2 separate regions of the Homo sapiens genome follow, and region 2 is linked to region 1. A link means that fine-mapping ties the variant in region 1 to the expression of a gene that starts in the linked region. Tissue or cell type: atrial appendage. Region 1 holds a variant in brackets; the other region holds the start of a gene. All regions are shown on one strand. Distances are between the middles of the regions.

Region 1 (8,104 bases):
CAATCACCTGGATACCTTAAAAAAAAGCCCCAGTTCCACACCAAGCCAGTATCAAATGAATCGAAATCTCTGGGGATGGGGCTTATCTCCCAAGGCTCCCCGAGGTGATTCTGATGAACAGTGAGAACCAAGAACCACTGATCCAGACCTTTTAATCCAAGAACTGAAAAGTAAATGACCAAAGGTTAGTATCTCACACGCTAGTTATATAATCAAACATCGATAAATAAAAACAATCTAGTGTTACTATGTACTGACATTCTCAGTTAGGGAGAACTGTGTTTCTAGAGAAAAAGGAGAGCTCTATTAACAGCCCTTTATTGGGGACTGGCCCTGCTAGAAACAGAATATAACTTCCTGACAATCTGATGAATTAGTTCAAAAAAACTTACTACGAAGTTGACAACACCTGGAGAAGTCCTATCAATCATCAAGATAGTTAGAACAATGTTAGTCAAAGTAGTACAAAAACTGATGTTCCTCAACCTAACTCTTACTCACTAGGTCTCACTGAAAGACCTAGCAGGTAGAAGTGGCCAGGTGTAGTGGTTCATATCTTTAATCCCAGCACTTTGAGAGACTGAGGCAGGCGGATCACTTGAGGTCAGGAATTCGAGACCAGCCTGGCCAACATGGCGAAACCCGGTGTCTATCAAAAACAACAGAAATCAGCTAGGCGCAAGGGCATGCACTTGTAGTCCCAGCTATTCAGGAGGCTGAGGCAGGAGAATCTCTTGAACCTGGGAGGCAGAGGTTGCAGTGAGCTGAGATTGTACCACTGCACTCCCATTTGGGCGACAGAGTGAGACTCTATCTCAAAAAAAAAAAAAAAAATAGGCTGGGCGGGGTAGCTCACACCTCTAATCCCAGCATTTTGGAAAGCTGAGGTGGGCGGATCACAAGGTCAGGAGTTCAAGACCAGCCTGGCCAACATGGTGAAACTCCATCTCTACTAAAAACACAAAAAATTAGCTGGGCATGGTGGCAGGCGCCTGTAATCCCAGCTACTTGGGAGGCTGAGGCAGAAGAATTGCTTGAACCCAGGAGGCGGAGGTTGCAGTGAGCTGAGACCGCACCACTGCACTCCAGCTTGGGCAACAGAGCAAGACTCCGTCTCAAAAAACAAAAACAAAAACAAAAAAAACCTAGTAGGACATGAAAAATTTGATGGGAACATACATGATTTCTGAAAAATACATCATTTCTGACTTCCTCAACAAAGCTTTGAGTTCAGTGACATAGGAAAAGGCAAAGCAGTCTTAGCTGAAATCATCCTTGCTCTTTTCAGAACATAATCAGCAAAACTAACAAGACAGATTAAATAAGTAGACCATTGAACTCTCTCTTACCTTATGTGCAAGGCCAAGCCATCCTGTAGGCTAGAGATCCCCAAATCAGAGAGTGTATCTGAGCCAACAGAAGCAGGTGACAAGGAGCCCTCCTTCTCCTCCAGTAGGTCCAACTTCACCAGGTTGCTGATCTCATCCTCTGAGTTATCTTCAGACACAGAACCTATTATGAATCGAGAGTGCTGGTTCAGCTCCAGAGGTTGGGCCAAGGGAGATGGTTCATCCATTATTCCTCCAAAATGAGCTCTTACAGCTATGGAGAAAATGAAAAGTGAGAAAGGCAGGTTATGAATAATAATCTATATCTGAGGTCAGCCAGAGGTTATATCTAATAAACCATAGCTGAGACGTGGAAGCAAGGCAATTTGAGAACTAACTTCCTTGGCTATTCTATTTCAGGGCCTTTAATTTCTACAAGGGAGGAAAATTGAGATCATGATAACTATGCCCATAAATTAAAACCAGTTCCCTTTTCCTCAAAGAAATTTTTCTCAAAAGCCTATAAGGCATTCCTAATCTCATTTTCATTTGGTGGTGTCCAGGAAATAATTATGATCAATGGGGAAACCTTTGCAGTAGGAAAAAGCTGCTTGTTGTGATATTGATATTTTGGTTGTTAGTAATGGGGGAATAAATGGTAAGGGTCTGGATAGAGTAATGGTTGTTTGAAATAATATTTAAACTACATAATGCTCATCTGGCTTCAAACACTATATATTGAGAGGCTATAACTTTTATTTTATTATTTATTTATTTGAGACAGGGTCTCACTCTGTCACCCATACAGCATGCAGTACTACAATCATGGTTCACTGCAGCCTCAAACTCTTTGGGCTCAAGTGATCCTCCTACCTCAGCCTCCCCAGTAGCTGGGACTATAGGCACGTGCCACCATGCCCGGCTAATTCTATTTTTATTTTTCATTTATTTATTTATTTATTTATTTATTTATTTATTTATTTAGAGACGGAGTCTCGCTCTGTTGCCCAGGCTGGAGTGCAGTGGTGCGACTGCCACTCACTGCAAGCTCCGCCTCCCGGGTTCATGCCATTCTCCTGCCTCAGCCTCCTGAGTACCTGGGACTACAGGCACCCGCCACAACACCCAGCTAATTTTTTGTATTTTTAGTAGAGATGGGGTTTCACCGTGTTAGCCAGGATGGTCTCGATCTCCTGACCTTCCGCCTCAGCCTCCCAAAGTGCTGGGATTCCAGGTGTGAGCCACCGCACCCGGCCTATTTTTTTTTTCTTTTTTGAGACGGAGTCTCACTCTGTCGCCCAGGCTGGAGTGCAATGGCACGATCTCAGCTCACTGCAACCTCCGCCTCCCGGGTTCAAGCAATTCTCTGCCTCGGCCTCCCAAGTAGCTGGGATTACAGGTACCCACCACCATGCCCGGCTGACTTTTGTATTTTTAGTAGAGATGGAGTTTCACTATCTTGGCTAGGCTGGTCTTGAACTCCTGATCTCATGATCCACCCACCTCAGCCTCTCAAAGTGCTAGGACTATGGGTGTGAGCCACTGTGCCCGGTCTAATTTTTAAATATTTTGTAGAAATGGGGACTCCCTATGTTGCCTAGGCTGGTCTTGAACTCCTGGGCTCAAGCAATCCTCTCACCTTAGGCTCCCAAACTGCTGGGATTACAGGTGTAAGCCACTGTGCCTGGCCTATGAATTTTACGTATGTGTATACTTTTAAAACAAACTCCAGATAGGTAATTTTTAATTAAAAAAAAAAAAACTTTACTTGTCCTCATGAGTTTTTTCTTAAATTATGCATTTTAAAATGTCACCCCAAAATGACTACTTTTGGCTCTAATGTGCTGACACTGATATGAGAAGAAAATGAATCTATCACCAAATTTAAAATCTATAATCACCTCAAGTAAGTATAATTTTTCTAAATGTAGGGCCTTACCAGTTAGGATTAGATACTGCCAATAGCTAACTAAGAAACTAATTAACAGCAAACCATCATGACACGTGTTTACCTACATAACAAACCTGCATGTTCTGCACATGTATCCCAGAACTTAAAAGTATAATTTAAAAAAAAAAAAGAAAGAAAAAGAAACTAATTAATAAAGACCAAAACAGCAACATTCATTCTCTTTTATGGAATGAAGTGCTGCCCATAAAAATTTAAAAATATTTTTTAAAAACCAAAATAAGAGCCCACAACAATAAAAACCCAAACTAAATGAAACAATATTTCTTCTGTCATCTCAAAAATCCTATTTTAAAATTTCAAAACTACAGATCAACTCAGTATTAAATAGCTTGTACCCAGATCAATTATTTTAATTCAGAAAATAAGCCTGGGCGCGGTGGCTCACGCCTATAATCCTAACAACTTGGGAGGCAGAGGCAGGAGGATTGTTTGAGTCCAGGAGTTCAAGACTAGCATGAGCATCAAAACAAGATCCCATCTGTACAAAAAAAAAAAAAAAAAGATTGGCCGGACGCGGTGGCTCACGCCTGTAAATACCAGCACTTTGGTAGGCCGAGGTGGGTAGATCACCTGAGGTCAGCAGTTCAACACCAACCTGGCCAACATGGTGAAACCCCGTCTCTACTAAAAATACAAAAATTAGCTGGGTGTGGTAACAAGTGTATAATCCCAGCTACTCGGGAGGCTGAGGCAGAAGAATCACTTGAACCCGGGAGGCGGAGGTTGCAGTGAGCTGAGATCATGCCTCTGCACTCCAGCCTGGGTGACAGAGTGAGACTCTGTCTAGAAAAAAAAAAAAAAAAAAGATTAATAATTCCCAATTGTGGACCTTTTAGAGGTTCCCTTGACTGATCCCGACCTCAACTTGTATACTGATGGAAGTTCCTTTGTAGAAAAAGGACTTTGAAAAGTGGGGTATGCAGTGGTCAGTGATAATGGAATACTTGAAAGTAATGCCCTCACTCCAGCAACTACTGCTCAGCTGGCAGAACTCATAGCCCTCACTCAGGCACTAGAATTAGGAGCAGGAAAAAGGATAAATATATATACAGACTCTAAGTATGCTTACCTAGTCCTCCATGCCCATGCAGCAATATGGAGAGAAAGGGAATTCCTAACTTCCAAGGAACACCTATCAAACATCGGGAAGCCATCAGGAGATTATTCTAGGCTGTACAGAAACCTAAAGAGGTGGCAGTCTTACACTGCCGGTGTCATCAGAAAGGAAAGGAAAGGAAAGGGAAATAGAAGGGAACCGCCAACCAGATATTGGAGCCAAAAGAGCCGCAAGGCAGGACCCTCCATTAGAAATGCTTATAGAAGGACACCTAGTATGGGGTAATCCCCTCCAGGAAACCAAGCCCCAGTACTCAGAAGAAGAAATAGAATGGGGAACCTCACGGGGACATAGTTTCCTCCCCT[C/G]AGGATGGCTAGCCACCAAAGAAGGAAAAATACTTTTGCCTGCAGCTAACCAATGGAAATTACTTAAAACCCTTCACCAAACCCTTCACTTAGGTATTGATAGCACCCATCAGATGGCCAAATCATTATTTACTGGACCAGGCCTTTTCAAAACTATCAAGCAGATAGTCAGGGCCTGTGAAGTGTGCCAAAGAAATAATCCCCTGCCTTATCGCCAAGCTCCTTCAGGAGAACAAAGAACAGGCCACTACCCAAGAGAAGACTGGCAACTAGATTTTACCCATATGCCCAAATCTCAGGGATTTCAGTATCTACTAGTTTGGGTAGATACTTTCACTGGTTGGGCAGAGGCCTTCCCCTGTAGGACAGAAAAGGCCCAAGAGGTAATAAACGTTCATGAAATAATTCCCAGATTCGGACTTCCCCAAGGCTTACAGAGTGACAATGGCCCTGCTTTCAAGGCTACAGTAACCCAAGGAGTATCCCAGGTGTTAGGTATACAATATCACTCACACTGCGCCTGGAGGCCACAGTCCTCAGGAAAGGTGGAGAAAATGAACAAAACACTCAAATGACATCTAAAAAAGCTAATCCAGGAAACCCACCTCGCATGGCCTGCTCTGTTGCCTATAGCCTTACTAAGAATCCGAAACTCTCCCCAAAAAGCAGGACTTAGTCCATACAAAATGCTGTATGGACGGCCCTTCCTAACCAATGAACTTGGGCTTGACCGAGAGACAGCCAACTTAGTTGCAGACATCATCTCCTTAGCCAAATATCAACAGGTTCTTAAAACATTACAGGGAGCCTGTCCCCAAGAAGAGGGAAAGGAACTATTCCACCCTGGTGACATGGTATTAGTCAAGTCCCTTCCCTCTAATTCCCCATCCCTAGATACATCCTGGGAAGGAAACTACCCAGCCATTTTATCTACCCTAACGGCAGTTAAAGTGGCTGGAGCGGAGTCTTGGATACATCACACTCAAGTCAAACCCTGGATACTGCCAAAGGAACTCAAAAATCCATGAGACAATGCTAGCTATTCCTGTGAACCTCTAGAGGATCTGCGCCTGCTCTTCAAATGACAACCAGGGGGAAAGTAACTAAAATCGTAAATCCCCTGGCCCTCCCTTATCATATTTTTCTCTTTACTGTTCTCTTACCCCCTTTCACTCTCACTGCACCCCGTCCATGCCACTGCACCCCGTCCATGCCCCGTCCATGCCAGTAGCTCCCCTTAGCAAGAGTTTCTATGGAGAATGCAGCGTCCCGGAAATATTGATGCCCCATTGTATAGGAGTTTATCTAAGGGAACCCCCACCTTCACTGCCCACACCCATATGCCCCACAACTGCTATAACTCTGCCACTCTTTGCATGCATGCAAATACTCATTATTGGACAGGAAAAACGATTAATCCCAGTTGTCCTGGAGGACTTGGAGGACTCACTTCACTCATACCAGTATGTCTGATGGGGGTGGAGTTCAAGATCAGGCAACAGAAAAACACATAAAGGAAGTAATCTCCCAACTGACCTGGGTACATAGCACCCCTGGCCCCTACAAAGGACTAGATCTCTCAAAACTACATGAAACCCTCCATACCCATACTGGCCTGGTAAGCCTATTTAATACCACCCTGACTGGGCTCCATGAGGTCTCGGCCCAAAACCCTACTAACTGTTGGATGTGCCTCCCCCTGCACTTTAGGCCATACATTTCAATCCCTATACCTGAACAATGGAACAACTTCAGCACAGAAATAAACACCACTTCTGTTTTAGTAGGTCCTCTTTCCAATCTGGAAATAACCCATACCTCAAACCTCACCTGTGTAAAATTTAGCAATACTATAGACACAGCCAACTCCCAATGCATCAGGTGGGTAACTCCTCCCACACGAATAGTCTGCCTACCCTCAGGAATATTTTTTGTCTGTGGTACCTCAGCCTATCATTGTTTGAATGGCTCTTCAGAATCTGTGTGCTTCCTCTCATTCTTAGTGGCCCCTATGCCCATCTACACTGAACAAGATTTATACAATCATGTCATACCTAAGCCCCGCAACAAAAGAGTACCCATTCTTCCTTTTGTTATTGGAGCAGGAGTGCTAGGCGGAGTAGCTACTGGCATTGGCGGTATCACAACCTCTACTCAGTTCTACTACAAACTGTCTCAAGAACTAAATGGTGACATGGAATGGGTCGCTGATACCCTGGTCACCTTGCAAGATCAACTTAACTCCCTAGCAGCAGTAGTCCTTCAAAATCGAAGAGCTTTAGACTTGCTAACCGCGGAAAGCGGGGGAACCTTTTTATTTTTAGAGGAAAAATGCTGTTGTTATGTTAATCAATCCGGAATCATCACCGAGAAAGTTAAAGAAATTCAAGGTCGAATATAACGTAGAGCAAAGGAGCTGCAAAACACTGGACCCTGGGGCCTCCTCAGCCAATGGATGCCCTGGATTCTCCCCTTCTTAGGACCTCTAGCAGCTATAATATTGTTACTCCTCTTTGGACCCTGTATCTTTAACCTCCTTGTTAAGTTTGTCTTTTCCAGAATCGAAGCAGTAAAACTACAAATCGTTCTTCAAATGGAGCCCCAGATGCAGTCCATGAGTAAAATCTACCACGGACCCCTGGACCGGCCTGCTAGCCCATGCTCTGATGTTAATGACATCAAAGGCACCCCTCCCGAGGAAATCTCAACTGCACAACCTCTACTACGCCCCAATTCAGCAGGAAGCAGTTAGAGTGGTTGTTGGCCAACCTCCCCAACAGCAGTTGGGTTTTCCTGTTGAGAGGGGGGACTGAGAGACAGGAATAACTAGATTTCCTAGACCAACTAAGAATCCCTAAGACTAGCTGGGAAGGTGACCGCTTCCACCTTTAAACACCGGGCTTGCAACTTAGCTCACGCCCAACCAATCAGATACTAAAGAGAGCTCACTAAAATGCTAATTAGGCAAAAACAGGAGATAAAGAAATAGCCAATCATCTGTTGCCTGACAGCACAGCAGGAGGGACAATGATCGGGATATAAACCCAGGCATTCGAGCCAGCTACAGCTACCCTCTTTGGGTCCCCTCCCTTTGTATGGGAGCTCTGTCTTCACTCTATTAAATCTTGCAACTGCAAAAATAAAAATAGAAAAATAATAATTCCCAATTGTGATTTTGAAGTGCTCTAAGATATGGTACATTAATAGATAATAAATGTATTATTAATAACTCTGTATGCTATAACTCACTGTAAAGTATGAAAGTAAGTGGACAACAGTGTTCCTTGACATCAGATGAGAAACCGTCAATACTTTAAAATGTTTGGGAATCACCACTCAACATGTGAAAATTACATATGCACGATTGTTCTGGTGTAATTTG
Region 2 (8,104 bases), 960 kb after region 1:
AGCAATCCGCCTGCCTCAGCCTCCAAAAGTGCTGGGATTAGAGGTGTGAGCCACCACACCCAGCCCTCTTCGGGCTCCATTTAGAAATTTCAATACGACAACAAGGGATTCCAGTAACCCACTTCACTGGGAAAAACAGGAAATCAACTTTTCCTTCTGCCTCATTATATTTCTTTTTCTTTTCTTTTCTTTTTTTTTTTTTTTGAGATGGAGTGTCGCTTTTTCGCCCAGGCTGGAGTGCAGTGGCCAGATCTCTGCTCACTTCAAGCTCCGCCTCCTGGGTTCATGCCATTCTCCTGCCTCAGCCTCCTGAGTAGCTGGGACTACAGGCGCCTGCCACCGCGCCCGACTAATTTTTTGTATTTTCAGTAGAGATGGGGTTTCCGTGTTAGCCAGGATGGTCTCGATCTCCTGACCTCGTGATTCACCCGCCTCGGCCTCCCAAAGTGCTGGGATTACAGGCGTGAGCCACCGCGCCCGGCCTGCCCCATCATATTTCAACTGGAATTCTTCACATCTGCTTATTGTATAAATAAATATTGGAGTGTCTACTATGTGCAAGAGTGTTCTTTGCCAAGACTGAGCCCCTAACAATCGATTCCTTCCTCTACTTGCACAATGAGTTCTCTTCTCTTGCTCCCATCATCGTGACAAGATCTTTTTATCTTGCTTTTTCTGAAATGTGAATTACTAAGATTGTAGGATTAAGAAATACCCTTTTTGGCTGGGCACGGTGGCTCATGCCTGTAATCCCAGCACTTTAGGAAGATGAGGCAGGTGGATCACCTGAGGTCAGGAGTTCGACACCAGCCTGACCAACACGGTGAAACCCCATCTTTACTAAAAATAGAAAAAATTAGCCAGGCTTGGTGGCGGGCACCTGTAATCCCAGCTACTTCGGAGGCTGAGGTAGGAGAATCACTTGAACCTGGAGGCCGACGTTGCAGTGAGCCGAGATCGTCCCACTGTACGCCAGCCTGGGCAACAAAGTGAAACTTCATCTCAAAAAAAAAAAGAAAGAAAAGAAATATCCTTTTGGTGTTACTTCTCTAACAGACAGCTCCCAATTTTCTTCTTTTTTTTTTTTTTTTTTTTTTTTGGGGGGGATTGAGTTTTGCTCTTGTTGCCCAGGCTAGAGTGCAATGGCATGATCTCGGCTCACCGCAACCTCCACCTCCCGGGTTCAAGCAATTCTCCTGCCTCAGCCTTCCGAAGAGCTGGGATTACAGGCGCCCGCTACCACGCCCAGCTAATTTTTTGTATTTTTAGTAGAGACGGGGTTTCTCCATGTTGGTCAGGCTGGTCTTGAGCTCCTGACCTCAGGTGATCTGCCTGCCTCAGCCTCCCGAAGTGCTGGGATTACACGCGTGAGCCACTGTGCCTGGCCAGCTCCCAATTTTCCATGAAGCTGATGAGGTAGGAAGATATGAATTTTCCAAAACAGTAGCTCATCAAACAACAACAAAACTAACTTATAGCTCATCTCTAAGCAATTAAATGATATTGACTCCCCTATCATTATTTCATCCAGGCTGATATGGAACAAGTTTGTATTAACTGAGAAACTGATCAGAGGGTGGGCAGAGATGATCTGGGATGTGTTGGCTACTGTGTGAGGCTAACATAAAACTCAATGGTGGAGGAAGTAATCTAAGATAAATTATATTAATGTTCTGCATTAATCAATAATCTTGGCCAGGCGCGGTGGCTCACGCCTGTAATCCCAGAACTCTGGGAGGCCGAGGCAGATGGATCACCTGAGGTCAGGAATTAGAGATCAGCCTGGCGATGTGGTGAAACCCTATCTCTACTAAAAATACAAAAATTAGCCAGGCATAGTGGCAGGCACCTGTAATCCCAGCTACTCGGGGGACTGAGGCAGGAGAATCGCTTGAACCCAGGGGGCAGAGGTCGCAGTGAACTGAGATCGAGCTATTGCACTCCAGCCTGGATGACAGAGTGAAACTGCATCTGAAAAAAAACAAAAAAACAAACAAAAAAAACACCTCTCATCCATGGAGTAAACTTTCCTCACTTTGGTTGGGAATACCAGTAAAAATAATTCATGTTTTGGCCGGGCACGGTGGCTCACCCCTGTAATCCCAGCAATTTGAGAGGCCGAGGTGGGCGGATCACCTGAGGTCAGGAGTTTGAGACCATCCCGGCCAACATGGTGAAACCCCATCTCTACTAAAAATACAAAAAATTAGCTGGGCGTGGTGGTGGGCACCTGTAATCCCAGTTACTTGGGAGGCTGAGGCAGGAGAATCACTTGAACCCGAGAGATGGAGGTTGCAGCGAGCCAAGATTGCGCTATCGCATTCCATCCTGGCTGACGAGTGAAAACTGTCTCAAGAGAAAAAAAAAATCATGTTTTATTTTCTAGGGATTAGAGTAGGTGGACAGGAGTCTGTTAAATAATCAGATATAGCTTATTTAAATGCTTAATAACATATATTCTATTTTTTTCTTTTTTCTTGTTTCCCTATGCTTCTATAGGCACTGAATAGCTCTGTTGCCCAGGCTGGAGTGCAGTGGTGGGATCTTGGCTTACTGCAACCTCTGCCTCCTGGACTTAAGCCATCCTCCCACCTCAGCCTCCCCAGTAGCTGGGGCCACCATGCCCAGCTATTTTTTTTTTTTTTTTTTTTTGAGACGGAGTCTTGCTCTGTCGCTCAGGCTGGAGTTCAGTGGCACAATCTCGGCTCACTGCAAGCTCCGCCTCCCAGGTTCACTCCATTCTCCTGTCTCAGCCTCTGGAGTAGCTGGGACTACAGGCGTCTGCCACCATGCCCGGCTAATTTTTTTTGTATTTTTAGTAGAGACGGGGTTTCACCATGTTAGCCAGGATGGTCTCAATCTCCTGACCTCGTGATTCGCCTGCCTCGGCCTCCCAAAGTGCAGGGATTACAGGTGTGAGCCACCGCACCCGGCCTAATTTTTTAATTTTTTTGTAGAGATAGGGTTTTGCCATATTGGGCAGGCTGGTCTTGAACTCCTGGACTCAAGGGATCTAACCCACTTCCGCCTCTCAAAGTGCTGGGATTACAAGTGTGAGCCACCCCACACGACCCCACATACTCTTCAACACATACATACAGCACTAATTTCATGTCACTATTAATGTGTCGTGCTATAGGTTCAATACTGTGGCTGGAACTTGTAGGGAAATACTTACCACATAAGAATGTACGATATAGCTGCGAAGTCAAGCTTTAAAAAACGCCTGTAATCCTTGCACTTTGGGAGGCCGAGGTGGGCGGATTGCCGGAGCTCAGGAGTTGGAGACCAGCCTGGGCAACACGGTGAAACCTCGTCTCTACTAAACTAGAAAAAATTAGCCGGGCATGGCAGCGTGCACCTGTAATCCCAGTTACTCTGGCGGCTGAGGCAGGAGAATCGCTTGAACCTGGGAGGCAGAGGTTGCAGTGAGCCGAGATTGTGCCACCGCACTCCAGCCTGGGTGACAGAGTGAGACTCCGTCTCCAAAAACAACAACAACACGTGATCTCCAAACCCAAAAGTAATCTTTCAGTTCTTCTGATAGTCCCCAGCACTTTGCTTCGACCTTTGTAGCAATTCTACTTCAGCCTGAAATTTCTTGTATGTACAGCCTGTAGCTCCTAACTTATTGCAAAATATTGTAGATGAGAACTCTGTAAGCTGTAATTGGCAGAATAATAACCAACGGCTAAGTGTGGAAAGTGTCTGCCTTTCAGCAACGTTTACACTACTGAATTTACCAGGGTGATCCCAACATCACGAATCCTTTAACAACTTAACATGAAGCAGCACGTAGCAGTTACCTGCATGGGTTCTGGAATTAGACTGCTTAGATTCAAATCTCGGTTCTGCCAGTTATCATCTATCTAACCTTAAGTAAATTACGTAATTGCTCTGTGACTCCTTTCCGAAATGACAAATCACAAATGTTTTTGTCAATTCACGTGTCTTCTGCTTTAGTAAACATAGTAGAAGACAGTAGTCAATCTCTTTTTTTGTTTTTTTTTGAGACAAAGTCTTTCTCTGTCACCGACGCTGGAGTGCAGTGGCGGGATCTCGGATCACTGCAGCCTCCGCCTCCTGTGTTCGAGGGATTCTCCTGCCTTAGCCTCCCAAGTAGCTCAGACTACAGCCGCCTGCCACCAAGCCCGGCGCTCTCTTGCTGGCGCATGACAACCGTGCGTTCCACCCTACGACTAATTTTTTTTTTTTTTTTTTAGACGGAGTCTAGCTCTGGCTGGAGTCAGTGGCGCGATCTCGGCTCACTGCAACCTCTGCCTCCTGGGTTCAAGCGATTCTCCTGCCTCAGCCTTACAAGCAGCTGGGACTACAGGCGTGTGCCACCACGCCCGGCTAATTTTTGTATTTTTAGTAGAGACGGGGTTTCGTCATTTTGGCCAGGCTGGTCTCGAACTCCTGACTTCAGGTGATCCACCGGTCTCGGCCTCCCAAAGTGCTGGGATTACAGGCGTGAGCCACCGCGCCCGGCCTCCTTTTCCTTTTTTAACTAATGGAATAAACGGCAATGTGCCAAGCATACAGCAATGCCCATTCCCCGGCCTTCAGAAAGCCTCGGGCGCAGGCGCAGCTCGCGTTCAAGCGCTCTCTCGCTGGCGGGGGACAACAGTTCGTTCCACCCTACGCCCAACGTTGTCTCCCTGCGCACGCGCGGCCGTACTCCGCCCTCCTTACTCCACCCTCCCCCACTCCCGCGAGCACGTGCGCGTCCTCGCTGCTCACATTTCGGCGGAGGGCGCGCTCCCTGGAAAATTCCACTCCTGTGCTAGCTCCACCCTATGCGGCTTTTCTCCTACCCGACGCTCTTCACTCTCAGCTCCCTTCCCGGCGGCCTTTGCGGGAACAAGATGGCAGCCCCCATACCTCAAGGGTTCTCTTGTTTATCGAGGTTTTTGGGCTGGTGGTCTCGGCAGGTGGGTAGGGACGGGGCCGATAGGACCCTAGGGGCTACAGGAGAGGACAGAGTCGAGGGAAATACTCTCTGTGCAATTGTCCTTGGTGAGCTGGGACAATACGAGTCATACCTAGGCCGGGGAAGAGGCTTAGGTGGACAGGACCTAGCTGCGGAGCTCAGTGGTCGAATGGGGATAGCCTAGACAGGGCCATGAGAGCGAGTGAATTAACGGATATTAAGTTTTTCCGGATTGGTTTGGGTCTGTCTGGCGAGGAGATATTAAAGGAGAGACAAGTAATGGGTTGGAAGGTGGACTCCCTAATCTTCGATTCTTATAAGTGAACTACGTTGAAGAGTAGCCGAAAATGAGGGCGTCCCATATTGTCACTGCCCCGTCTGAGCAAACCTCATGATCAGAGAGAAAAGATCTCCTGATCTTTCGAGGGTTTATTGGTCAGTTGGGTGCTAAAACGACAGAATAAAGTTTACAGCGAGACTCCCGATAGGATGAGCAAAATATCACGAGTACATATGGAGCAGATGCCTACAAGAGGACTTTGCTTATGCTTTAAGCATAGCATTCAGGGCCCGGCGCGGTGGTTCACACTTGTAATCCCAGCACTTTGAAAGTCCGAGGCAGAAGGATGGCTTGAGCCCAGGAGTTCGAAATGAGCCTGGGCAACATATAAGACCTGGTCTTTACAAAAAAATTTTAAAATTAGCCAGATGCGATGGCGCACTCCTTAGTCCCAGCTACTTGGGAGGCTGCGGTGGGAGGATAGCTAGAGCCCAGGAGGTCAAGGCTGCAGTGAACCGTGATCGTGCCATCGCACTCTAGGCTAGCGATCTGCCTCAAAAAATAATAAAGAATAGTATTCTGCCCATTTCAGTATTGAGTTGGTGTTTCCCCATCACCATCAGTTTTTGAAACTTGCTTTGATCAACTCAGTATCCGTAGGAGTTAGCATAGTCCTGTACTGTGGGAAGTTCTAAAGGAAAGCCTTTAGTAAATGTGATGTTAATAAAGGTTGCTAACTGTCTTCTATTTAGAGACACCCATAAGTATTAAGGTCCTAATGCATTTTTTCCCTGTGATATTGTTTTATAATTGTTCCTGAAGCATTCTTTGGATATTCCCTCTCTATAGTGCTTTGCTTAGAGTTTGTAAAAGATAGTAGATCTTTTTTCTAGGTTCCTAACCTTTCCTTTACCTTCCAGCCAGTTCTGGTGACTCAGTCCGCAGCTATAGTTCCAGTAAGAACTAAAAAACGTTTCACACCTCCTATTTATCAACCTAAATTTAAAACAGAAAAGGAGTTTATGCAACATGCCCGGAAAGCAGGATTGGTTATTCCTCCAGAAAAATCGGACCGTTCCATACATCTGGCCTGTACAGGTGAGGTATTTCTGGGACCCTGACCTGGGATCCTTCTGTCAGAGATCTTCTGGAACTTGGGATGACTTGGACTATGATTGATAATATTTAATTAAGCACGAAGTCAGTTCAACCTCAATAATGATTAACCTTATATACACTATATATCATGAAGTTGTTCTTTGAACTTACTTTCACACTGTCCCTAGAAGGCAAGAGTGAAATTTCTCCATTTTGTGGAAGTAGAAACTGAGGCTCTGAGAGAAGACTTAAATCTTTCTGGCTTTTTTTGTTTTGTTTTGTTTTGTTTTTTGAGACAGAGTCTCGTTCTGTCGCCCAGTGGCACAATCTGGGCTCACTGCAACCTCTGCCCCCCTGGGTTCAAGCGATTCTCCTACCTCAGCCTTCCAAGTAGCTGGGATTACAGGCACCTGCCACCATGCCCGGCTAATTTTTGTATTTTTAGTAGAGATGGGGTTTCACCATCTTGGCCAGGCTGGTCTTGAATTCCTGACTTTGTGATCCGCCCGCCTCGGCCTCCCAAAGTACTGGGATTACAGGTGTGAGCCACTGTGCCCGGCCTTGTTTTGTTTTTTTCTAGTGTAACATAGTTCTCTCTACATGGAAGTCTGTTTCATTAGTCTACTTCATATCCACAATCCTTCCCAATTTTACATTACTTCAATTTTATGAGTTTTTCTCAATCTTTCAACACTTTCTTAATTTTTTTCTTCCTTTATTACAGCTGGTATATTTGATGCCTATGTTCCTCCTGAGGGTGATGCACGCATATCATCTCTTTCAAAGGAGGGACTGATAGAGAGAACTGAACGAATGAAGAAGACTATGGCATCACAAGTGTCGTAGGTGTCTGAGACAATTGGGTATTGGTATTAGAATAACAATTTTTTGTTGCTACTTTATCCCAAAGAGACCTTTTTGGGTTAATTGGGTTGGGTGTCATTCTCTTAATAACATGATGGTATTTTCTCCTTTGTACTAGAGTCTGTATTTAATGCAGAATAATGTGGGCTTCCTGATTCTCAGCATCCCTGCCTTTATTGGTAATTTTTGTCATATCAGTTAGGGAGTTGACTTTGGAGTGTATAGGATCCTTTTTTAATCATATATTTAATTTTTTTTTTTTTGAGATGGAGTTTCGCTCTTGTTGCCCAGACTAGAATGCAATGGCACGATCTTGGCTCACCGCAACCTCCGCCTCCTGGATTCAAATGATCCTCCTGCCTCAGCCTCCTGAGTAGCTGGGATTACAGGCATGTGCCACCATGCCCGGCTAATTTTGTATTTTTAGTAGAGATGTGGTTTCTCCATGTTGGTCTGTTGGTCAGGCTGGTCTTGAACTCCTGACCTCAGGAGGCCCGCCTTGGCCTCCCAAAGTGCTGGGATTACAGGTGAGAGCCACCACGCCCAGCCCTTTATTTATTTATTTATTTATTTATTTTGAGACGGAGTTTCACTCTTAACTCACTGCAACCTCTGCCTCCCGGGTTCAAGAGATTCTCCTGCCTCAGCCTCCCGAGTAGCTGGACTACAGACGCATGCCACCACGCCCAGCTAATTTTTGTATTTTTAGTAAAGACGGGGTTTCACCATGTTGGCCAAGATGGTCTCGATCTCTTGACCTCGTGATCCACCCACCTCAGCCTCCTGAAGTGCTGGGATTACAGGCGTGAGCCACTGCGCCCAGCCGACCTGGCTAATTTTTAAAAGAAATTTTTGTAGAGACGGGTTATCACTATGTTGCCCAGGCTGGTCTCGAACTCCTGGGCTCAAGCAGTCCTCCCACCTCAGCC

Alleles and levels. Positions count from the first base shown, and alleles are read on the strand shown. Sizes are in standard deviations (SD) of each study's normalised expression.
As copies of C replace G in region 1, the expression in atrial appendage of the gene that starts at base 4,853 in region 2 goes up (large effect, 1.0 SD a copy in GTEx).

The links. PIP is the estimated chance that this variant, and not a neighbour inherited with it, causes the effect.
Region 2: it holds the start of MRPL45, and the variant in region 1 is fine-mapped to the expression of MRPL45 in atrial appendage (GTEx, PIP 0.96).

Annotation. Positions count from the first base shown.
Region 1 is chr17:37,328,824-37,336,927 of GRCh38, forward strand. It overlaps ACACA (acetyl-CoA carboxylase alpha), which reads right to left. Exons shown (of 56, transcript NM_198834.3): 3 at 1,350-1,602. Among named protein-coding and RNA genes, the nearest start is that of C17orf78, 43 kb to the right of the region's middle. The variant C/G (reference allele first, on the strand shown) is at 4,723.
Region 2 is chr17:38,292,316-38,300,419 of GRCh38, forward strand. MRPL45 (mitochondrial ribosomal protein L45) reads left to right here and starts at 4,853. Exons shown (of 8, transcript NM_032351.6): 1 at 4,853-4,934; 2 at 6,134-6,311; 3 at 7,036-7,153. The coding sequence starts at 4,869. It overlaps LOC105371760 (a long non-coding RNA gene), which reads right to left and starts at 3,290. Exons shown (of 3, transcript XR_934732.2): 1 at 3,179-3,290. RefSeq lists enhancers at 4,189-4,737, 4,738-5,288.